Regions from separate parts of the Homo sapiens genome. Here all the other regions are linked to region 3. Evidence: fine-mapped expression QTL. A gene starts in region 3. Each other region holds a variant in brackets. All regions are shown on one strand. Distances are between the middles of the regions.

Region 1 (8,344 bases), 140 kb after region 3:
AAGGAACAATTTCTGCCATAAAGTTGTGCTTTCATATAAAAATGTATTATTTCCACCTTTAAAATGGCTAGAATCAAAAAGCTACATAACAAATGTTAGTGAAAATGAAGTGAAATCAGAACCCTCACACACCACTAATGGAATGTGAAATGTTACAGACACTTAGGCAAACAGTCAGTTTCTCAAACAGTTAAACACAGACTTACCACATGACCTGCCAGTTGTATCTTAGGTAATATACCCAACAGAAATGAAAACATATATCCACAGAGAAACGTTTATACATGTTTATAGCAACATTATTCATACTAGCCAAAGATGGAAATAACCTCTATCAACTGACAAACTGATAACAAAATGTAGTATAGTCATAAAAAGGAATGAAATGTTGAGACATGCTACAACATGAATGAACCTCAAAAACCTTACACTAAGTGAAAGAGTTAGAAAAAACTATATGTTATATGATTTTATCCATATGAAAGTCCAGAACAGGGAAATCTAAAGCAACAGAAAGTAGATTAGATATTTCTTAGGACTAGGAGGTGGGGCCAATGGGGGAGCATAGGGGCAGTAACTAAAGAGTAAGGGGTTTCTTTATGAGGTAATAAAAATATTCTAAACATTGACTGTGGTGATAATATCACATATGTGTGAATGTGCAAAACATGAATTGTGCACTTTAAATGAGTGAATTTTGGCTGGGTGTGGTGGCTCACACCTGTAATCCCAGCACTTTGGGAGGCTGAGGTAGGCGGATCACCTGAGGTCAGGAGTTCGAGACCAGCCTGGCCAACATAGTGAAACCCCATCTTTACTAAAAATACAAAATTAGCCAGGTGTGGTGGCACATGCCTGTAATTCCAGCTACTGGGGAGGATGAGGCCGAAGAATTCCTTGAACCCGGGAGGTGGAGGTTGCAGTGAGCTGAGATCACGCCACTGGACTCCAGCCTGGGCAACAAGAGTAAAACTCTGACTCAAAAAAAAAACAAAAAACAAAAAAAGAGTGAATTTTACAGTATGTGAATTATATCACAATGAAACTGTTTTTAAGATGCATTATTTACAACCTCATAATGGCCACTAGAAAATGGGGCTAAAGTACATAATAGCAGTATAACATTGTAAGCAGTATGGTCTAATAATGTTTTGTCTAGACATAGCAACCAGCTAATCCAATACCTCAGCCAATCACAGGTCTTCCGAATATCCCAAGCTTAAATGACCCATAAGATGTTAGGAGCGTGTAGATTCGGGCACTAAATAATAAATAATATGGGTGCCAGTAGTGGCCTATGTGATCTCATATTCATTCCTCTCCCTTCTCTTCTACTCTGCGTCATAGAGGTCACCCCTTCAGGCCCTATTTTACAGGCATCCAACTGGGTTTGTGCACTAGGAGGCACTGTCAGGAGACTGTAGGTTGGAAGGAAAGAAGAAACCAGGGTACTTGTTGCCTTCCCCCTCTGACTTAGTCTGTGTCCACTGTGTAGCTCCAGCTCCCAGTAGTTAGACTGCAGTGGTTCCAGTGCTGGCTGCCAAACCCTGTCCTTGGGCCTCCAAAACATCCTTCTTCAGCCAAGCAGTGATAGCAGCTCCTGCTTTTGCTAATTTCTGAGTTGCTTCAATATATCTTTTATAACTTCTTTGTTACACACCTGGGTAACTAATGCTTTATTCCATTCTCTTGGTTTAAATGTGTAATGGTGATTTGTGTTTTTCTGGTTGAACCCAACAAAGCTTGATTCACTGTTTCACAAGTATAATAATGGTATAATAGTTCAGTTTATCTCTGATTATCTTTCTGTCCACTGTTTCTAGCCTACAGAATCAAAGCACTTTATGAGATAATTATATTTCACTATTGTGGCATTCAGAGCAACTTCAATTTGTTCAATTTAATATGAAAAGAGAACTGATATAAAGAACATTAATAAAATTTGAACCATGAAACAAAAAAATAATGTTTTAGAAAGTAATGATTGGAGTTATTTTCAGAAAATTCACAATCTAAAATCATAGGAAAACAGCCTTCCACTCTATATTCAGTCAGATGGTAGGGATATATGAAGAAGAATTAAAAATCATTATGCTAAACATCTATAAAATATCAAACATTGATGTTAAGAAAGCTCTCCCTAAAGACAATGGAGTTGATTCTCAAAAATATCAGTGAGCTAATAAATTCTTTAAGATATACATTTTAAGCACAGTCATAAAAGTAAAAAATTGAAATGAATTTATGATCTAAATTTTAATCATCTAACTACAAATAAAACTCAATAATAAATTAAGAATCACTATTTGTAAAGATAGAGACTCAAAACCACAGTTTTCCAGGGCAAAATACATGGCAGAAGCAATGTCATTAAACAAGATTAAGTAAGAGATACCAAGGCAAGTTTAAGTACATTAACACTTATAATGAGTGCAGTTTATACTCAATGCCTTTTATAATCAGTTTATTTGACAGACATTATTGAAGCACCATGCCATGCTAGGGACAAAGCAAAACACTAAGAATGCAAAGATGAATAGGACATGGTGTTTGCCCTCAAGAAATTGTGTGTAACTAGGAAGACAAACACATGAATGACTATAAGACAATGCGATGAAAGTTGTGACACATTCCCAACAAAATGCATTGTGGGAATACAGATGAGGGAGCAAGCAATTCATCCTGCCTAGACCAGTCAGGGAAAGCTGCTGAAGAGAGGGGACTTTAGAGTTTGTTTATTCTTGGATTCATTAATTAGGCCAAAATCATTCCAGCCTGAGGAAAGAAGATGAGCTAAAGCAGAATGAAATGAAATTGTATCCTGTGTTTGGGAAACTGTCTAATGTGTTTAAAGTCTAATGTGTTTTAGGAAAAAATAATAGGAAATAAGTCAGAAAGGTAGGCAGGAGATAGACAATAAAGAGCGTTTCCTGAACATGCAAATAGATGTGGACACTGTTCTGTGCCACTGCTGTACAAACTTGCATCAGAGGATGGACTTCAGGATATAAGCTAAATTATAATCTTTAAGTGGTTGGAGATTATTACCAGTAATAATTAGACAATAAAAGTGTTCATTTCTTAGTCATATATGTACCTATTTATGAGTTAATGTTAAGTGAGTAATAAAAGCCTTCTGTACAAAGCTCAAACTAATAAAGCATAGTGGAACTAAATTTGGACTCTGAAAATTTAGAGCCAAGGTTGCTAATTACTATATGAATAACCATGAGCAAGTGATTTACAGTCCCTGAACTTCACTCCTCACGTATACAGTACAGACATATTGTCTGTTCTTTCTATCTCACAGGATCGTTGCAACAGTCTAATGTAGTTGTACTCATGAAAGGGTTTTGCAAAACACTTGTGATGTATTGCTATTGTGAGGCAAAATTTCCATTTAACGTCTTCAGTAGATGAGTCATAATAGCGAAAGAACATGACATGCATAAAAATGCAAACACACACTCAAATACTTACACATAGAATTTCACATATTTCACAAATATCACAAACAAGAAGAACTCTGCTCAGTGGACACAAAATTTTGAAAAAGTTCATGCTAGATCCTTGTACTGTACCTGGTACATGGTAACAGCTAATAAATATTTGTGGATACATGAATAAGTGAATTCATGTTGCAACTATTTTAGGACATGATTTTATTAAGTCTCCAAAACTAAGGAGGAAATCCAATAGCTAAGCCACCAAGAAACACCTTCAAATGTTGAAGATGTTCCCCAACGTAACCTCCAGGGAAAGACTTCAGTCTACTACCCCTCTGCACCTGGGACTCCTGTACCTACTTGCGCTTCTGACAGGCCTCATATTATTCAGTCTTTTATCCCACCATCTTTTAGGGAGTAACCTACCCTGTGGCAGCAACCGTCCTAGCTACGGGGAAAGTACTTGCTCTCATTATAAGGTACTTGCTCTCATTATAGTCTCATTACAGTCTAGTTGGGAATGCAGACAAGTAAACAAAGGACCATAGTAAAGTCTACCATGTAGACCAGTCACTATGTAGTCCATACCCTTTGGACATGCTTCAGGTGACTTACAGCTGCCTAACCCTAACCCCTAGGCATAATCTGCATCTCTGGGCCTGATTGCTTTACTCTGACCCACACAAGTCTGCTCTGCCCAAAGAACAGTAATCCCCTCAAATCTGAGAAGCAGCACCTTCCAGACACTCTTAATTTATACACAAGTGCTGGTATATAAATATTTCAGCTCCCTCCCACCTTGGGTAGTTTAATTCTGAGTTGCGTGTTTCATGCCAATTCCTAAAAGTTTTCTGGTAGGATTTAAGATCAACTGTCCCACTGTGGTTAATCATACACCCTTTTGTGTCTGATTTCTCTTCCTTGTGTCACTGCCCCTCTCCCTGCCAGTGTTCCACGCACATCCCAAATAAACTACTTATACTTGAATCCTTGTCTCAGGGGTTTGCTTTTGGGAAAGTACACGTGAAAAAAAGAAGTCCCTAAAATGGAAGCATGCACAAGGCATCACAGATGAAAATGAAATTGTCTAAATAAAAGACATAATTATCAAGGAAGACTTCTTAAAGAAGGTAACATGGGCCGGGCGCGGTGGCTCACGCCTGTAATCCCAGCACTTCGGGAGGCCGAGGCGGGCGGATCACGAGGTCAGGAGATCGAGACCATCCCGGCTAAAAAACGGTGAAACCCCGTCTCTACTAAAAATACAAAAAAAAAAATTAGCCGGGCGTAGTGGCGGGCGCCTGTAGTCCCAGCTACTTGGGAGGCTGAGGCAGGAGAATGGCGTGAACCCGGGAGGCGGAGCTTGCAGTGAGCCGAGATCCCGCCACTGCACTCCAGCCTGGGCGACAGAGCGAGACTCCGTCTCAAAAAAAAAAAAAAAAAAAAAAAGAAGGTAACATGAGCAAGCCTTGAAGACATTGGCCTGGCAGAGAATGTGGGTTGAGTGCACCCAGGTAGACCA[G/A]AAAGCACATGAGAAGGTATTAAATTATGAAACAGCATGTTGTATTTGGAGAACTAAAAGTTGCTTCTGTGACTAGAGGGAAGTGTGACTGTCCTTGATGAAATGGCAGACAATGAAGCTAGAGAGGTAGACAGAGGCCACCTCATGAATTATCTTGTGGGCTAAGCCCAGGAGTCTGGGTTTTATCTTGAAATACAAGAAAGGCAGAGACACGGAAGGATTTGTAAGGATAGGAGTCACACAATTGAATTTGTATTTGAGAAAGATTACTTTGGCAGCCATGTAGAAGTGAGATTAGAAGAAAAACACGTGGAAGCAGGAAAACCAAGAGAATACTTTCAAGAATTCTCATGAAAGAAATTGATGAGAAAGTTGAAAATATGGGATTTGGTGAAAGTGTGACGTAAGTTTCAATCCTGGTTTCATCGGATAACAGCTATATGACCTTGGGAGAATTATTTTACTTAATTGAGCCTTAGTTTATTCCTAGGTAGCATTAGAATGATATTACTTTCCTTCAGTGTTTTAAGAAGACTAAATAAGAATGTATGTGAGAAGTCTAGCACAGTTCCTGGCAAACCACAGCTCTCATTTGCTGAGAACCATTATTATTAAGGCACTGAGATTGATGCTGAAGAACACTGAACAACTATGAGAGATTCCTGATAGCATTTACCAATTAAATGAATATGGATTGTGAGTTCAAGATGACTCACAATTTGCAGGTTTTTGTTTTGGGTGATGGAACGAGTGGTGGGATAATTCGGCAAGGTAGAAGAGAGCTAGGTTTTGAACATATATTACCTCGGTTACTCAGGTGAACAGAAGATAAACAGATATTGAGCAAAAAAGAGGGGCCAGAGCTGGGGATATTGACTCAAGAGTCATCAGTGCTCTGGTGGCTAGTGAAGTCCTACATGTGGAGGAGTCAGGGCTGGGGAAGAGGGAGGCTTGGAGAATATGACCTTTAGAAGGTGAAAGAAGAAAGAGCAGCTTGAAATACAGGCCCCCGCTGTCGACTCTTGCCCTGGAAAATGTAATACCTATTCAGTTGGAGAAAAGTTCCGCAGTTTCACATGTGAGGGAGGGACAAGACATCAGATTTGAACTTCACCTAAAGAAAAAGGAGACAGGAGCTCAGATCTGAAAGAAGCTGTTTGGATAGAAACACTTATTTGTCTGACTCTCTATAACATGAATCATAACCCAAATCGGGTCAACAGAACAGGCCATGTTCCAGACAGGAAAACAAATAGTGCTAGGAAGCACTCCACATTAATTCAGTTCCCTCGTTCTTCACTGGGCGCTGCAGGCAGGCAGGCACATGTTCGCTCTATGAAAGGACTTTCTAAAGGTATGATTCATTAAGAGTGGATGGACTGCCTTTGAAGTTACTGGGCCCTTAGTCCTCAGAAAAATTAGTTAGAAACTGATTTTTTTCTCAGAGCGGTTTGTGAAGGTGCTGTGTTCACTAATTAGGAGTGAGATTATAAGAATGCAAGATACCTTAAAATCTTTTCTATTGGAATAAATTTGCAACCTCATGGAATAATTTATTTCAATAACTCCAAATTAATCTTTCTTAATGACCTTGAAAATGTTGGCTTAATGTTACTGTAGCCCAGTGACTTTTCAAGGGAATGATGCTTCCTCCTAGTGGGGGGCATTTTGGAAACATGTACGAGTGTTTCTGCATGTCACAAAGGTTGGAAAGACACTATTGGTTTTTAGTGATCAGGTGCAATGGATGTGAGAAGTCTCTGAAAAATAATTCAAGTGATTACAAAATGTGTTAAATCATATGATTTTGTATAAAAACTTGTCATACCAGCTTCAAAAGAGATTAGTGCAATAATGAAAAAATTTCAATAAATTATCTTTTCTATGCCATTGAACAATGGTGAAATTTCAAGAAAAATAAATGATTTGGTAAAAGTTGCCAAAAGCAACTGAAAATGAGTTGCAATCAACTGAGTTTTCATTTCAATAGGATGAACATGTTCTGTGGAATAACAGTCTTACTATACACATATGTTGATTCTTTCCAGTGAAATGAAGAAGTTACTGAGATAATGCTATTTTCAAAATTACTGGAAATGAATACAAAAGAGTCATCAAAAATTAGATGCTTGAAACCACTATAATTGCTTCAGAGAAAAAAATCTTTTTCTAATGCCTTTACATTAGAAAACCTTGGAATGTCATCAACATTTAGCAATGTGCATGTATAGTCAACTTTTTTAAAGTAGCACTAAGTTCTTTAGAAATTCATCATATTGTTCTTTGGCCACATTTGGTCACCAAGTATCTTGGTAGAAAGCTCCACAAATCACTGAGTGCTGTTCAGTGCTATTAATACAATTAAGAGTTATCTCCGAAACTATGCAATAACAATGAAGAAGAGTTTGAATGTTCCATCCTAAACAGAGAAGATGATGGCTTTTTAAAGGAAACTATTTAAAAATATTTTGTTTGCCATTTGATACTATTAAGTTTTCATTCAAACAGTGAAAAATTAAATATTAAAAATTGAAATAGTATGACATGATATACACCTTTCATATATATTTGAAAAGCTAATAAGGGTCTTATTAAGATGCAAAGATCAAATCAATATCAAAAAGTGATGAGAATTATTATGAGACTTAAGCATAGACATTATTACTTTGGACAGAGAGCATTTTCGAGTTTCTATTTTTACAGCAGCTAGATAAGAATACCTTTAAAGAAACATATTTGAAAATATATTGCTCTTGCAATGGACTGCATGTTTGTGTTCCTCCACAACTCATATGAAATCTTAACTCCCAATGTGATAGTATTAGCAAGGGGAGCCTTTGGGAGGTGATTAGGCCATGAGCATGGAACCCTCATGAATGGGATTAGTACCCTTATAAGAAGCACCCCAGAGAATTCTCATACTCTTTTTCTACCATGTGAGGACATGAACAGAAGAGAGCAGTCTGCAATCCAGAAGAAGACCCTCACCAAATTCTGCTGTGCTGGCACTCCGATCTCTTCCACCCTCCAGGACTGTGAGTAATACATTTCTATTGTTTATAAGCCCCTCAATCTGTGGTACTTCATTATAGCAGCCTGAAGGGACTAAGGCAGCTCTCACATGGATGTTTTTATGAAAGATCATTATTTACTCTGTCACCTAATGACAGATATAGTCTCTCCTACTATATAGGGACCCAGCCAGTATAAATATATGCACATTCAAATTGAGTGATATAAGGAATATCCAATAAATAAATAATTTTCTAAGACATCATTAGGGAGTAGAGAAACCACAAATGGTGATGTATACACTGACACTAATAAAACTAGGGCACCGGATAACTAACTCCACAATCATTGTAGTCATATTTGT
Region 2 (8,344 bases), 31 kb before region 3:
CAAATAAGGTTTTCTAAAATATTCTCTCTTTTCACTTCTTGAACTGTATGCCAGGCATTTAAAATTTATCATCTCATTTAATCTTCCCAACAGCCTAAGAACTAGATCATATATATATACATATATATATAATTTATATATATAATTATATATAATTGAAATACAATATAATATATAATTATATATAATTGAAATACAATATATAATTATATAATTATATCTTATAATTATAATATATAAATATATTATGTATAATATATAATTATATAAAATATATTTAATATATAAATATATAATACATAATTATATATACTGATATATATATATATATATATCTCTCTCTCTCTCTCTGTCTCTCACAGATGAGGAAAGTGAGGTTGAAAGAGGTTAAGTAGCTTATCCAAAGAGGTGTCAAGCCATTTAACCAAAGTAAGAATCCAATTCTATTTTTTAATTGACACCAGTTCTCTGTGATAGCAAAGCTCGTACCATTCTCACTTCAAGAGATGCTGCATCCGTAAACAATCATGCTTATTTATAAAAAAGAAAACTGAGATGAAATGATTATTTAAAACTTTTAAGAACATTTCCACACAATGAAATATAGTGCAGCTCTCAGAAAGAATGCAATAAATCTATATTTGCTAAAATGCAAGATTTTACAAAATACATATACTATTGAGTGAAAAAAATCATGGTGTAGAAGAGTATGAAGATATCATATAATTTTGCTTTGTCAAAAAATATATACGGTTACATATGCATTGACAAGTTCTGAAAGAGTGTGCAAGGAAATGTCAGTGGGTAACTCTGGGGGTAGTACCAAGGGTAGGGTTCATGCAGAGAGACTGACATTTTCCCTTTGTATCCTTCTGTTTTTTTTTGATGTTTCATGTTCAAATATCACTTTTTAAAATTAAAGACAATCCAATTTTTAAAAAGATTGTGAGATGTACAGATCAGAACAAAGGCCTACTAATGGGAGGAGCTGAATATTAGAAATGCCTGCTTTAATCACCTGAAGTGATTTAAGAGCAAGTGAAGTACAAAATCAAACACTTTTGTAAGTTGAACAGAACTCAAAACCTAGAAATACATCTAACTTATTCACTAGGTTGATTTTAAAAAGGGATATATTATAAAATTTAAAAAATAGTTATTGAAACAATGTGAGGATGGTCAGCTATATGAAAAATAATTATTTATATCCACACCTCATATTACGCCATAAAGCAAAACAAACATGTGAATAAAACATTTATACATGTTTTATTTAGCTAGCTAAATAAAAACAAATCCAAGAAAATAGCAAAAAGGCAAGTCAACATTTATCAGATCTTATACTGGTAGTTACCAACTTTGATGAGTTACAAGAGGCTATAATAAAAAGAAATATTTAAATGTTTATGATAAAATCATTTCAATAAAAAGTGGCAGAGAGAAAAACATATTGAATAAGGGAGAAAAGAGGAGTTATGTTTAAAATTGAGAGAAAAACTGACAGAGAAAAAAGGGATAAAAAAGAAAACTTGTATGCAAAATGGAATATTTCAAAATAAATAATAAAAATATAAAAACACAAATGAAAAAATGTCAAAAAATAAATAAAATAAAATAAAATTGAGAAAGAACTATTATGGCCCTAATAGATAAATAGGTAAATTTCATGTAAATATAATACAATTTTTAAAATATAATTAATAAAGCAATACTTAGAAAAATATTTAGTCAATGAATAGACAAATAAGTGCAAATTAAAAACAATATGAGGTACTGTTTTTTCCATACTGAGTTAGCAGTATAAAGAATGATATCAAAAGTATACAAGACTGATACCAAATTATAACCTCCCTTTTTTCTGATGACACAGAAAGTGGAACAGTCTTTTTGGAAATTATAGTCTAAGACTCATGAAAATAATTCTATTCAGTTTTTGTGCTTTGGAAATTATTACTGATAAAATTTAGTCTAAAAAGAATCTAAATTTTTTTAAGATGTTTTTTGCAACATTATAAGAATAAAAATTTAGAATCAACTTACATATGCCCAACAATTACAAAATCATCATGTAATTAATTCCTCAACAAAAAGTTCCTTGATAGAATTTTATCTGCCTTTTATCATAATTATTATGAAGAATACATATTACACATATGAAAACACAAGTATGATGTTACATTAAATTAAAAAAGACGCAAGGATATAAGCTATGGATGTAAAATCATGCATATATATGGATAGGTATAAGAACATAACTGAGAGAAATATAATTTGATTTGTTAGAGTGCAGATTTATTGATACTTTTTTCTTAATTTTAATTTTATTTCTGCTAACGCTATTATGCAAATATTTGTTCAACTGATAATAATAATTTTCATAACCTTAAAACACACAGTAGTGTTTTTAAGCAACAGAACTAAAGAAAAAATAATTTCAACAGCAAAATCTGTAACATTTGTCATAAGCACTAATAAATAAGGATAAAGGGCAATTGAATAACAATATTATTCTTTATATATAAATGTTTCCTAAGGCCTTTGTAGTCTGATACATTATAAAACACAAACAGATTAAGTAAAAAATACACACAACATGGAGAGTATGTGGTATAACCTCACTGGACTGGAAAAATGTGTTCTTATCAAATGTAGTACTTTGAAATATTGCATATTTATATATTTCATTTTTATTTTAAAAATAATATATGTGCTTAACTATACATTCATTGAGCTCACCTAATATCATTGTGATATAAAAGATGATTCCCATAGTTTATTAGATCATGGTATTTAAAGTAAATTGAACCATGTGATTGAATAATGAAATATTTAATTTTGGTGCTACAATGACCAAAATTAAAATAATCTTTTCATTAAGAGCAACTATATGACTACAAATACGTACGTACATAGGACAAAGTGGTCAGTATCCATAGTCTAGTTTGCTTAGAGAAAATGCTTCTGTACTTTAGGAATCAGAAAATAGTTTCTCCATATAAGAGCATATCTTCAAGTCAACATCCTTCTATAAATAAATAGTTCAATTTCAAACTTCCTGGAAATGAGTATTTAACATTTAATCATTAAATACAGTCAGTGAAACTATTAAATGAATTCAAAGGACTAAATGAATATTATGAACTGGCAGTTATTAACTGCAACCATAAAGTATTAAAGAATAAACAGTATTGATGGCCAATCTGGAGTGACAATCTTAGTAACAAAATATTTTTATAAACTGTTTGTCAAAAAGAAGGCCAAAAAATACATCAGATTTGACCACTTAAAGTATTTTCTTTGTTGGCATAATTTCTCTTTTTAAAAAATAACTTAATACAAATTATTCTACTAAGAAATAACATTCTTTAGAAAAAAAAACTTGATTCACCAGTGCTTCATGAAATTGCTTTTCATTACTCTCTCATACAGTCATAAAGCTGCACATTTTTTCTGTAGTTCTAAACAAGGTTTAAATCAACTCCCCCCTCCCCCACCAACAAATTATCTCTGCCAATTAATGATTCAAAAACTTTCCTAAAATTCAATTATTTACAGATGGGTCTAGAGTTTCTACACATATTGTGTGCAAAGCAATGTTTGCCCTTTGATCCAAACTATATTTTCAAGGACATCTCTAAAGCAAACAAACAGCATTGGAAGATAGAATGTCTCCCACCAGAGCCTCAGGGCTGTCATGGTTATTGCTCATTACAAAAGATTTAGGTTCTCTAAGCTCAGAGATCCTTTCTGTAACACAACTCACTGTTAGTGCAGGTACCATCCCATCCTTTTGTGTCTCCTTGTAGAAACTGGGGCTTGGGGAACTGATACAAAAATAAGAATACACTAGCTCCTGTTATTGCTATGATTAAAGGTTGTCCAACTTTGGCCCAGGAGGTTTGTGTCTTTTATCGGCATCCATGAAACTATGGCGGGCCATCTTGTAAGTTTGCAAGTAAAAATCTCAGACCCTTCACAGTTCTTTACACCAATAAGATCATATACTTGATGCACCCTTTATAAGTTATTTTCAGAACTTAGAAACTTAGTTTTCTTTTGTTAAGTGAAGCCAGGGCCATTCACTGCACATTTTCCACTGGGCAGCAGGTCACCTCTAGCTGTAAGAAACAAGAAAGATGACGAAGAGGAGAAATCAACGTAACCCATGTTTGAAACACACAGTGGCCTATATTTGAAAACATAATAACAAAGCCACATGAGGCTGGCTTTTCTAATCATCCAAAATTACTTGGCTCTAAATATTTTCATCACCTTCTGTCTCAGCAGTTTATATGTCAAGAAACAAAATGGTCCAGAAAGTATTTGTACCAAATAATAAAGCTTTAGTCAATCCATTCTGACACAAGGCAAACTAAGGAGGTGAGTCAGAAAGTTCAAGTTTTGCTCTTCAGACATCTTTCTTCTGTTTAGGTTTGTTTATTTGTTGCCCAAATCAAAAAGTGAACACTGGTTTATGATCCAACAACAAATCCTACAAGAAGTTTAGTCTTAGCTATTAGATTATCCATTAAAAAAAATTCTCCATCTAATTAAGATGATAAATGTCTCAAACTCTGCATAGTTCCTCTATAATTCCTACATTATTATTTTTCAATTGGTACTAAATATACATCTTATAGCCGCTCAGGATCAGGTCTAATTCTGGGTTCTGGTTAGTGTTTGGAATAACATGAGTAAATGATATGGCATAAATATAAATGATAGTGACAAACACTGTCAAACTTTATCCAGTGTGGTTTTTCTGTTTCAAGTGGCAGAAATTAAGTGAAAATATCATAACCAATAAATGTTTATTCTTTTATCAGATAACGGCTGAGAAATATGTGGTATTTGGCTAATGTGAAAAGAGAAGCTTCCTTAAAGTCTGGGTTTGCAGAAATTC[A/G]GGAAGTAGAGTATTAATGGGAAGTAAGATAGGGTGAGGTAGAGTATTAATGGGAAGTAAGATAGGTGATGTAATCAAAGAATCAGTGCCAGTCCCCTCTTTCTTCATCTGATTCAAGATCGTGAACCTGAGCCAGCTCTGATAAATGTAATAATTCTAGACAGTGAAGTTTACCATTGAAACACTGAAGTTGACTGCAGAAACCAAATGCTGTTCTAAGCTAACTCTTTCCTGTAACCTATCCCATCTCTGCCTACTCTGATACCAGCCTTATTTTTTTTTAATTTTTCTTTTGTTTCCTCCTGACTAGGCTTTGTAACCCTCTCACTGAACCTTTATCACAGCTGGTATTCTATTTCAAACTGGATAAACAAAAGAATAATTGAGATGAAACCATAGGCTAAATGCAAATATCTCCCGGCCTATTAACTCCTATTGCGTTCCTCACCTATCGCATCAGCCCCTCTTGGATGCCAATGTTAGTTTAAAGCAAGTAATGTTAGTCCCGTGCCTTTGGACATTATACTCTAGATTGCTGATCAGTACTTTAGAATCCACCCAGGTTGTGTTTCTAATAGTTTCCAGCTTTCCTCCCTCTCAACCAGCTCACCTACTGAGAACTTAGCATACACTGGATCACATTCACTAAGAATTATAATATATTCTAGCACACATGTATGGATAAGCTCCTCTATTTTATTCACATCTCTTTTGGCTCCCATAGCTACTTTTAGAAGAGTAAGTGCACTCATACATCATTCTCTCCACAAAAAGATTCTTAAGATTTATCGTGTCCCAGATACCAAGCTCAGTAATAGGGTATATGTAAAGGAAAATGAGACAATTGAAAGAAAAAATTAAGTCCCTGCTCTATACTAGATGCCGTTGTAAGTGTTCATAGTTCTGTGGGGAAAATGTTTATGTGAACACATTTCACACATGCTTTAAATGCTATGCTAGAGGTATGTGCAATGCACATGGAAATACAGAAATAGACACACTGGACTCTGCATCAGTTGAAGCTGAATTCACTGGCCGGTGACTTTTAAAGAACACGTGGTCAGATGCAAAATGGTTCTATAAATAAAGAGGAAGGAGAAATCAGTGCTCCAGGCAGACAGACCAGTATATTCAGTGAAATGGATGTGTGAGACAGTATATTCTATACTGTGTCTCTTCAATAGGAAGAACTGAAAATGAAAATTGTTCCTTTTCACTTCTGCTTTTTATTAAGAGGCCAGTAGTAGAGAAGCTGGAACAACAAAAGAAAGTTTTAGATTTGCATATAAACTTTTGTTTACATTTATGTTATGCTTGGTATGTTAACTGGGCATCTAAGCTTATTTCAAAGTAGAGCAATAGTAAAAAAAAAAAATTAACCTGTTAAGAGAATAAACAGTGGCCTGATTATGTTGGAATCCTTAATGTTTCCCATGTTTGCATGAATGTATGTATAAAACATATATATAAATTGGGAATATGGTGGGTTTTCCTGGTTTCAGTGTGAGACACTGACCTCTACAGTATCCTTCAGTGCCCTGGCCAGTTTCAGGTGGTGGTTGCCCAGTGCCAGGCAATGGGAAGAATCAAGTTATAAGCCTCACTATATTTCTTTCCCTGCATCACCCAAAAAGTGAGGAAAAAATTTTAAAAAACAAAGATGAAAAATAACCAATCAACAAAATTCTTTATTAACTAAAAGTTAATGAAAGTTATTGTAAACTCCAGCCTAAGAAAGATAGCAGCTGATCTTCTTTCAAAGCTGAATAACACCCTTAATCAATCCCAGCCCTATTTCCTTGCCCTAGCTTGTCCTCCCACTGGGTGTAGGCACATCACCCGCTTGACTCCCTTCCCTCTCTGTCCTCTCTAAGTTTGTCTTGCTCTCTATGCCTGAGTCTTAAAACAGGCCACAAAGATGCCACTCCATGGGTTAAAGTTGTTCTGGGTTCCATTAGTGTTTGCTCTTTCTTCTTACCTAGGTAATTTCAGTGCTATGACACTGCGGTCTGATAGTCACTGAGCCCTCACTCTGTGGTAGGCTAAGAGACACTGCCATGAGAAGGAGAGTTTCAGGCTTTGGGAGCTCATCCTCTTGTGAAGTGTACATTCACTAGATGATTATACAACTAAATCTCTTTTTGATGAAATCAGGCTTCACCTATTATTCAAAGGCAGGATGTTTTAGGCTTGGTGTCAACGGGTCATGGAACATACGAGGACTCCACATTATTTCTTCCGTTCCAAAGGCTGTACCTTTCTTTTCAACTTTGCCACATGGCATCCTACTCTTTCACCATTCTGCAATGGACTTCTATTATTTAACAACGACCACCAAAAGGCTTCCTTTTCCTGTCTAGGAAGGGTCCTGGGTACTCAATGTATTTGCTCATGACCTGAGCTTCGTAAGTGGTTGAGCTGATATATTCTGCTCATAGTTATCGATGTGAGTCATCTGCTTTTCCGCATCCTGGTATGAATACCCCTGAGCATGCAGTGTGACCTAAGGACATATGAAGTTATGGATAAACATATTTCATCTTTTTGGAAGAAAGGATGGTAGAAAAACAACTTTATTTTTAGATGAACATGGGAACATTATGTAAGAGAATGCAAACTTTTAATGTAAAACAGATGTCAAAGAATATTTGTGTTTATGGTGGACTGTACCAGATTTCTATGAGAACTAGTCATTTTTTTTCTGTAGTCAGGAACAGAAAATGTGGAGAATTTTATATAAATAAAATTTATTTACAAAACTTGAAGAACAGTGCACACAAACATTCTTCAAGACAGATCACTTGTTAGGGCACGAAATACACCTCAGCAAATTTCAAAAGACTGAAATTACAGAAATCAGTAACAGGGGGACTTTGGAAAAATTTGCCAATACACGGATATTGAACAGCATGCTCCTGAGCAACCAATGGGTGAATGGAAGATTAAAAGGGGGATTTTTTAAATGTCTTGAGGCAAATGAAAGTGGAAACACAATATACCAAAACTTACAGAATGCAGCAAAAGCAGTTCTAAGAGCAAAGCTTATAGCAATAAACACCTATTTCAAAAAAGAAGAAAGATCTCAAATTAACAACCTAATATTATACCTCAATGAAACAGAAAAAATAAACTAAGCCCATAGTTAGCAGAAGGGAGCAAATAATAAACATTAGAGCAGAAATAAATGAAATAGAGACTAGGGAAACAATCCAAAAGATCAACAAATGAAGAGTATGTTTTTTGAAAAGAAAAAATCAACAAACCTTTAGTTGGGCTCACTAAGAAAAAAAAATAGAGATAATTCAAATAAAATCAGAAATAAAAAGGAGACATTAAAACTGATACCACAGAAATACAAAAGCTCATGAGAGATTACTAGAAACAATTATATGCCAACAAATTGGATAACCTAGAAGAAATAAATTCCTAGATACATAGAAC
Region 3 (8,308 bases):
GTCATTTTTTTCTTAAGGTTTGATTTATTCTTTTATATTGTCAACATTTATATGTACTTTTAAAGATTCTTTTTCATGTGGTTGTATTATCTCAACTTTTTAAAAAATCCACTAACTACTGCATGTCTTATATCTACTCACTCATGGTCGATTGAGTCCATGGTCCACTGACTCTCACTCTTGGTCGATTGTTTCCTTGTGTGTTTTGTTATTCATTATAGCAAGCATATCTTTAGCAGGACTTGCTTTCTTCTTGAAAAGCCTAGGCAATCTAGATGCTTGATACTAGTCTTTCATAATGATTTTGTGTTTTACTCTTATAGGAACCTCAGGAGTATTTTCCATGTTGACTATTTCTAGGCTAGTTAGGTAGGGTATAAAAACAAAAACCCCAAAAACGATATTCTCAAGGGGAGTGTTCTTTTCTTCTTACTGTTAAAGTTTCCTGTTCTCACTGTATGCTGGTGGGCATATATTTCTAGCCTACATTTTTATTTAATGGCTTTATGCAGGGCACAGGGGTATCTCAGTTCCAGCTCTCTGCCTCATCTGGCACCAAGAGTTTACCTTCTTTCTGTCTCATATGGACATCAGATTCCAGGCTTCTTCGTCACTGGGACGCATAACTCACAGGGCAACCACATCATCACTTCACAATCTATACTCGCTTTTAATGTCTTTGTTCTTAGCACATGGTAGATTACCCTTTTATTTTTCACAAAATTGGGAGATGTTTTAAAATCATTTAAAATCTTTTATCCAGTACTGCCAGGTGTCTGTAACCATAAATTTTTCAGATTGTCTCAGTCAGCTGAATTGCCAGTGCTTTAGTTTACAGTTTACTGTTTCATTATTCATAATCAATCAATTACTCCTTCCCAAGCAGAAAGTTTAGTTGGACTGTGTTTTCAGATCCTGAGATTTTAGAAATGCTTAACTTTTTTAAATGTCTGGGATTCTTCCCCAAGTTCAGCAGTGATGAACTGTAAACATACCTTTAAAGTTCTAAATAAAGGAAATCTGAAATGCCTCCTGGGACCTTGGCAGGACATGGGCCTTTCTTGCTAATCACCATTACAAATTGATCACAATAGAGAATATTAATTGATTTGCTATTGAAAGTTGAATAAAGAGAAAATCTGAGCCATTTTCTTCTGAACACCATTTCAATTTATTACTATTTTAACTATTAAGGCCTTATTTAACTATTAAGGCCTTATTGCACATAATTGCTCACAAATAAGATAATTTACCATAATTTTCAGTTTTACTACTGAAAACTGAAGCCCCATAAATATAAATAAAAACTGAAGCCCCATTACTACTGAAGCCCCATTACTACTGAAGCCCCATAAATATATGTAAAAAATTTTTCTAAATAAGAAAACTATGAAACAGAAATTTTTGGCAAGAGTCATAGAATTTATTCCACAGAAATGACAACTTACAAAGACTTGGGATCTTATAAGGGAAAATCTCAATGATTTGAGAAATGGCAATATTCATATCTAAAATGTACTAGTGATTGCCACTTTCAGAAATGATACACCTCCCACTATGAAATTGTATAAATCACAAGTCAAAAGCATATGGAAGAGTTGATTTCTACTCTACCAGAGGGAGTAATTTTCTTTAGCTCTTTCTCATACATCATAGGTGTGAAGTACTTTTGTTTCTTGGTTAAAATTTTTCTGTTAGTTGATTATTCAACTAGAAAAACTTAAAATCTTGTCAGAGAAAACAGTGGATGAAATGTAACTATAGAACCTTTTGGAAATAATAGATTCATATAAAACCAAACCCAAATTCTAGAGCATGGCTCACTCTTACATGTATTATAGTACCTCTGACATCACGCAGAGGGTGGATGTTATGAATTGAAGCACATTAAAATATTTCTGTTCATCACTCTGCTGCTCAGTTCTATTTATTAAGAATAGTCCAGGATTCTTGAACTAAGGGAATATTCACTAAATACTGCATGTTGAGGACAGCCTGGGTAACATAGTGAGAACTTGTAGCTAAAAAATGTAATAACAATAATTAGACAAATTAGGCAGTAAGCCACATTTGAAGAAAGCACTGGGAAGAGTTTTCAGGACAACTTGGAATTATTACTTTATTTAGTCTCTCTCACTACTGATATATAACCACAAGGTTTTTAATCAAATCATTTTTTGACAGACACAGCGACAAGTGATTATATGGATTACAGAATGAAAAAAGGTTTTGTTCATGGAACAGTCTAATTTTTAAAAAGCCGTATAAATTTTTAGTCACCTAGTTTAGCCAGGAGGTAATGTTGCCAAACCTATAACCCTCAGACATCGGAGATCTCAAGTTTAACCAATAAAAATTCCATCTATGTCTTAAACTTACACCTTCAAAGTACATTTTAAAATAGCAGCATTTCAGAATATCCAAGATTTATTTATTTTTCTTTCTATTCTTGTTTTTTCTTGTCATATATCACCTTGCTATTCAGAGGGTGGTCCACGGACTAGCAACCTTGTCATCATCTGAGGGATGTCAGAAATGGAGAATCTTGGGCTGTACCTAAGACCTGCCTTCTCAAAATCTGCATTCTAACAAGATTTCCACATGATTTGCATGCTAGCCATTAAAGTTGGAAAAGTCTGTACTATGAGACATAAAAATATCTTCTAATTTAACACATCAAGTGTAAGATTTCTTTGAGGGATGATGAAATTGTCCTGGAATTAGATATTAGTGGTGGCTGTACAACTTTATGGATATATTAAAAATAGTGCATTGTACAAGTTAAATGGGGGAATTACGTGGTATGGGAATTATGTCTTGAACTTTTAAAAAGAAAAACATATACATAATTGTAAATGCTCTTAACTTGCACAGCACACAGATGAATGAAACCAGTTCTAACTATTCTCCTTTATCTTTGAGAAAAGTTAGATGCTCCCTTTACTGCGGCTCACCTCTTACTTCGAAAGGGCACCGCAGCAGGGCTTGAGGCTGGGCAGCCCTGACACAGCACCCATCTATCAGGAGGGTCTGCCAGGCGCCTATGGGGTGGAATCCTCCCTCCAACTAAAGCTGTTTATAGAGCTGAGAACCTCGGGAAACCGCTTGCGGGTGGATGTGACAAGTCAGGAAACTTGACTACCCAATCACCCAAAGGGGCAATGGGACAGAAATGCTATCTGCCCGCTGCACATGTGGTCACAGCGGTGTCGGGGAAGCGGAGTCTTTTCTTCTGGAGTCCACTCTGCTTACTCCCTACCTCCCCTCCCGCCACCCACCCAGCTAAAAAAAAAAATACCCTAGATTCATAAACAAAAGCTTGCAGTTACCCACAGCCCAATACAAACGACCCGACGCCCTCACTTCTATAGCCCGTGAGTCTCCCAGCCCCTAACAGGCTCGTCTCCCCAGACGCCCCGGGTGAAAAGGTTCGCGCCGCCGGTGGAGAGTCCTATTGGTTCTATTTCTGTCTTCACTCCAAGGCCCCAGGACCGGGGAGAGGTCCTGGTCTAACTTTGGCTGTCCCACGGTCCAAGGACCTCAGCGCTCAGCCCGAAACGCTAAGCCAAGCGTGGAGACCGCCGGGCGCACCCAGCACCCAGGCAGCTCCAACCCTTGGAGTTCTAGTCATCTCTCCCCCACATAGGCTAAGAGTCACCCGGGCGCACATCTGAATCAGCCCCCTGTTCAGATCCCGCCTGTTACGTAGCGATCCTGTCTCTTGTAGAGCGCAGGATGAAGGGGTCTGGAGAAATCGACCACCCATCTAATCACCTGCAATGGTGGTGTTACTATGCGGTCTCACTCTCGTGGGCAAACATATCCATGCGTACCTACGAGGAGCAAACCTAGACAACCCCGCCTCCCCCACTCCCCGCGCGCCCCTCCACTCACTCAGGTCCCAGCCCTGGCTCTCGCGGACCTCCCAGCACCGTCCTAGGAGGTACACACGCGGGTTCAGGACGCGCGCGGACGGACTCGGCCACTCCTGCGAGCGCACAACCTCCCTCCGCGCAGCCCGCGCCCGATCCGCCCCGCGTCGCCGGCACTCACAAGCAGGGGTAGTAGCCGTAGCAAGGCAGCGGGGCTTGCGGGCAGCCGTCTTCTCCCAGCTCCGAGTCCATGAGCAGATAGTCCTGGCTCTCGTTGCGCCGCGCAGCGGCTCCGGCAGCGCCCCGGGGAGAACTGCCCCTCCGGGGCCCGAACGCCGGGCTCTGGCTCATGGCGGGAACGCCCGACTGGCCTGGGCCCCGCTCCCGGGGGAGCCGAGTGGGCAGTTCCAGCGGGGACCCGGTGCGGAGGGTTCGCGTCAGCGGCCGAACTGGACCTGGGCAGACCGGTGCCCAGGGGACGACGGTGAAGCAGGGGGTGCAGACGCCCGCCGCAAGTGGCTCGCCCACTGGCCCGGGGAAAAGTCACCACTTAAGGGGGTGCAAAGAGGATCTTGACCTGAGCAGGTCAGGCCGAGGAGACCCCGCGAGGATGCGTCTGGGGCGCCCGGGCAGAGAGGGCACAGGCGGGGCCGCTGGTGGTAGCGAAGCGTAAGAGCGGAGAGCAAGGGAGACGGAGCTGAAGAGTTACTATGTCAACAGAGACTCTCCAGCCCTCAGCTCCCGCCTTCATCCCCCGCACTCTCCGTCAAGATCCCCACCTTTAAAGGGATCCGAGCGACGTTCTAGAAAGCAGCCAAAGCCTGTCCTGTAGCCACAACTTTCAGGAGGCGGTATGAGCCTGAACTAGGAGGAGCCAGGCACGCACTCTTTTTTTCCCCTCCACTATTTAGTTGGCTCATTTAGTAAGGATACCAACTGCGGACTTCGTAGGAAGCTTCCTTTAAGAACCACTCTCAAAGAGCCAAGGAAACCTGTTCCTTAAAAGGGACACGAGCCTCTTCTTTCTCCAGACTGCCTTCATTTTCTTTGGTCATTTTCTCTCTTACCCTCAACTCATAAAGTTATTATGACTCTGCTTTAAAAATGAACAACGTTCTATGTTCCAAACGCCAGATGTTCCCAGTTCCTGAGAAAACCAACAAAAATAGGCAAGCATTTTCCAATGATACCGATAAAGAGGCCAACAACCTGCTTACTTCAGAGAAAAAATTTTCCTTCCGTCACTGCGAATGCAAGAATGATTTCTCTGCCAGATGTTTCCCACGTTTCCAAGCTGTTTTATTTTTAAGACTTAGTTTTAAATTCTGATTAATATGCATACGTGTGAGAAGTAAAAACTTGTCAACAAGGATGAATCAGTATTTGTAGACCTTTAAGCAGTAGTAGCCAATTAAGAATCCATTCATTAAGTCAACAAATATTTAATGAATGCCAACTGCGTTTCAAATCATTTCAGAATTCGGAGGCAAAGAAGCAGATGAGGCACCTGTCTGCCCTCATAGAGCTTTCGTGGCAGAAAGGGGGACCAATTAAATAAGCAAATGAAAAAATATCAAGGACAAATGCTACAATGAAAATAAAACAGGTTGATGTGATGGCAGCTGGTGAATGACTACTTCAGATGAGATGGTTAAAAGAGGCCCCTCCAAGGAGGTGCTCGTTAAGTTGAGACATGCATGGCAAGCAGCCAGCCATGAAAAGATCAGAGGCCCATTGCAATTGGATGAAAGAAAGCCAGACTGAAATCTGTCTGCAAAGGTGCCTTTGCTTCCCATGAACAGGTGGACAACAAAATGAATGTTGGAAGTGTGGGAAAATGCAATTGATTTGATAGAAGGGAAAAGAGCTCACACATTTAGAAACTTCTGAGTTTGCCTTTAAATTTAGAACTGAAACTCAGAGAGAGCAGAAACCACTGTGTCCTGAGGATCCAGCTTCGTATTTGACACAGGTGTGTAGGGTGCATGCATGCATGCTTGGGTGGGTGAGTGGGTGGGTGGGTGGATGGATGGATGGATGGACGGATGGATGGATGGATGGATGGAAGGAATATAGAAAAAATAAGAAAATGCTCTTGGCCCTGGAAAGAACATTTTCCCTGGGGAAACAAACAACCTGCATCATTCTGAAGTCTGTTCTTTCTGATTTAACAGCCTTCCTTTTTGATCTTTCAACATGTGGAGCCATGATTTAAAATTCTTATAATTTTCTAGTTACTATACCTAGCAATAAGATATTCTTCCTAAAATTTGTTTGTGGCAACTGCTATCTGTAAGTATTCATTAGCTTTGATGCTTGAATGAATTAATCAATAAACGTTTAGTTAAACAGTGCCAAGGTAATCTCTTTGGCAACACCAAGTATGGGGAAAACATTCATGGGAAAAGTAATATTCAAAGGTTTTCTACCCAATTCAAATTCTGTGAGTTAAAGCCAAATTAATAAACATTTGTAGTGTCAGTTGAAGTGTTAACCTTTCACATAAAAAGAAAAAAAACAAAAACTGAGACAGAATTTATTTTGCTGTTGTTACACTGTTTTTCATTCACAGGTAACAACCTTCACACTGAAAAAATTACTACAGTAAACTTATTCTGACATCAATTTATCATGTGGTAAGACATGTTTTCCTCTGTTTTTTTTTTTTTTTTTGAATTATTGTGAGTACTAGAACAACAAGCCCAGTCATTTATTGAGTACCCAGAAGGAATAAGGTGGTGTACAAATGTTAGAAGATTCTGAAAGAGCTTATGACATGATGAAGTGGAATCATTAGATCAGAAGTCTCAAAGCCTGGATTTTTATTTCGGCCACTTCCCTAACTGAAGTTACATGATTTCAGAGAGGTCATTAAATCTCTCTCTGCCTCAGTTTTTTCATCAGTAAGCTGGTATACAATTACGCCTCAATCTCTAACTTCCCACATTATATAGTTATCTATGCAGTTTTATCACTTTACATTAAAAACATGGTGAAACCAATTTTTAAAAAGACAAAATACGATTAAATAATATAATTTTTGAATCAACTATGGAAGTATTGAGTAGATCTGGAGTCATGAAGAAAGCTGAGTGAACAAAGAAACAATAGTTTTTAAAGTTAAAAAATTGTTGGGTGAGCACAGGACTGATAGTTCTCACAGAGTTGGAAATTGCTATGCAATTATAGGTTATGTATGTTTATGTAGTATGTTCATGCTATTGAAATAAAAAAACACTCAGTCATTAATTCTGAGATGTGAGGATGAAGGTGAGTTATGTGTCTCTGTGGGCAGAGGAAGAGATGTTAATGAGAGAGGACCTTTGCCTCATTATATATATCTGCACTGTTTGATTATTAGTTTGATTTTACAAAAACAGATATTTTACATATATACATGTGTGTAATATATATAATGTGTATATATATTATACATATAATATATATATAACACAGTGTTTTGAAAAGCTGATAGGAGAAAAATGAGTAAAGAAAAATGGTTGTCCTCTAGAACAGTGGTCCCCAACTTTTTTGGCACCAGGGACTAGTTTCGTGGAAGACAATTTTTCCACGGACCTGTGGGGTGGGATGGATGGTTTGGAGACTATTTAAGTACATTAAATTTATTGTGCACTTTATTTCTATTATAATTACATTGTTTTATATATAATGAAATAATTATACAACTTACCATAATGTAGACTTGATAGGATCCCTGAGCTTGTTTTCCTGCAACTAGATGGTCCCATCTGGGGGTGATGGGAGACAGTGACAGATCATCAGGCATTAGATTCTTACAAGGAGCACACAACCTAGATTGCTCACATGCACAGTTCACAATAGGGTTCATGCTCCTAGGAGAATCTCATGCCTCCGCTGATCTCACAGGAGGCAAAGCTCAGGCGGTAACGCAAGTGATGGGAAAAAGCTGTAAATACTAAATACAGGTGAAGCTTCGCTGGCTTGCCCACTGCTCACCTCCTGCTGTGTGGCCCAGATCCTAATAGGCCACAGATGGATAGCAGTCCATAGCCTGGGGGTTGGGAACCGCTGCTCTAGGAAGTCTCAGGCAAGGAGCCCAAAGGGAAAGGAAAAGAAATTGCCACTAGAAGCAAAAGGTTGAGAAAACATTAAATGCTTAATAACTCAAGAAGCTCAAAAGTTACACAAAGCTGCAGTTTGTGAGTTGCTGTTGCTGATGGAAAACCACTAACATAGGAGTCTCTCTGGAAAATGCAGTTTGGGGTTGGTTGGCCAGAAGTACAGATAAAAGTTTAGTCGTGATTTCATCTGGATATTTTAAAGCATGGAAACCCTGAGCCCTGACTCCTATCACATGTAGAATCAACCGGGTGAAAACAGAAACACTTCAGAAGCTTCAGAGGGGCTGCTGATTCTCTATGAATGAAAGTGCCCTGCAAACTCCAGTTTGAGTA

Which allele goes with the higher level. Alleles are on the strand shown, and positions count from the first base shown. SD is a standard deviation of normalised expression in the study named. Not every link is listed here.
As copies of G replace A in region 1, the expression in unexposed skin of the gene that starts at base 4,727 in region 3 goes up (small effect, 0.38 SD a copy in GTEx).

Evidence for each region. PIP is the estimated chance that this variant, and not a neighbour inherited with it, causes the effect.
Region 1: its variant is fine-mapped to the expression of TRPC6 in unexposed skin (GTEx, PIP above 0.99). The same link has a PIP of 0.9 or more in sun-exposed skin.
Region 2: its variant is fine-mapped to the expression of TRPC6 in blood mononuclear cells (TOPMed, PIP 0.97).

The regions. Positions count from the first base shown.
Region 1 is chr11:101,715,224-101,723,567 of GRCh38, forward strand. No RefSeq gene overlaps it. Among named protein-coding and RNA genes, the nearest start is that of TRPC6, 140 kb to the left of the region's middle. The variant G/A (reference allele first, on the strand shown) is at 4,969.
Region 2 is chr11:101,548,143-101,556,486 of GRCh38, forward strand. The region is part of intron 1 of TRPC6 (transient receptor potential cation channel subfamily C member 6); the gene reads right to left. Among named protein-coding and RNA genes, the nearest start is that of TRPC6, 32 kb to the right of the region's middle. The variant A/G (reference allele first, on the strand shown) is at 4,904.
Region 3 is chr11:101,579,281-101,587,588 of GRCh38, forward strand. It overlaps TRPC6 (transient receptor potential cation channel subfamily C member 6), which reads right to left and starts at 4,727. Exons shown (of 13, transcript NM_004621.6): 1 at 4,054-4,727. The coding sequence starts at 4,223.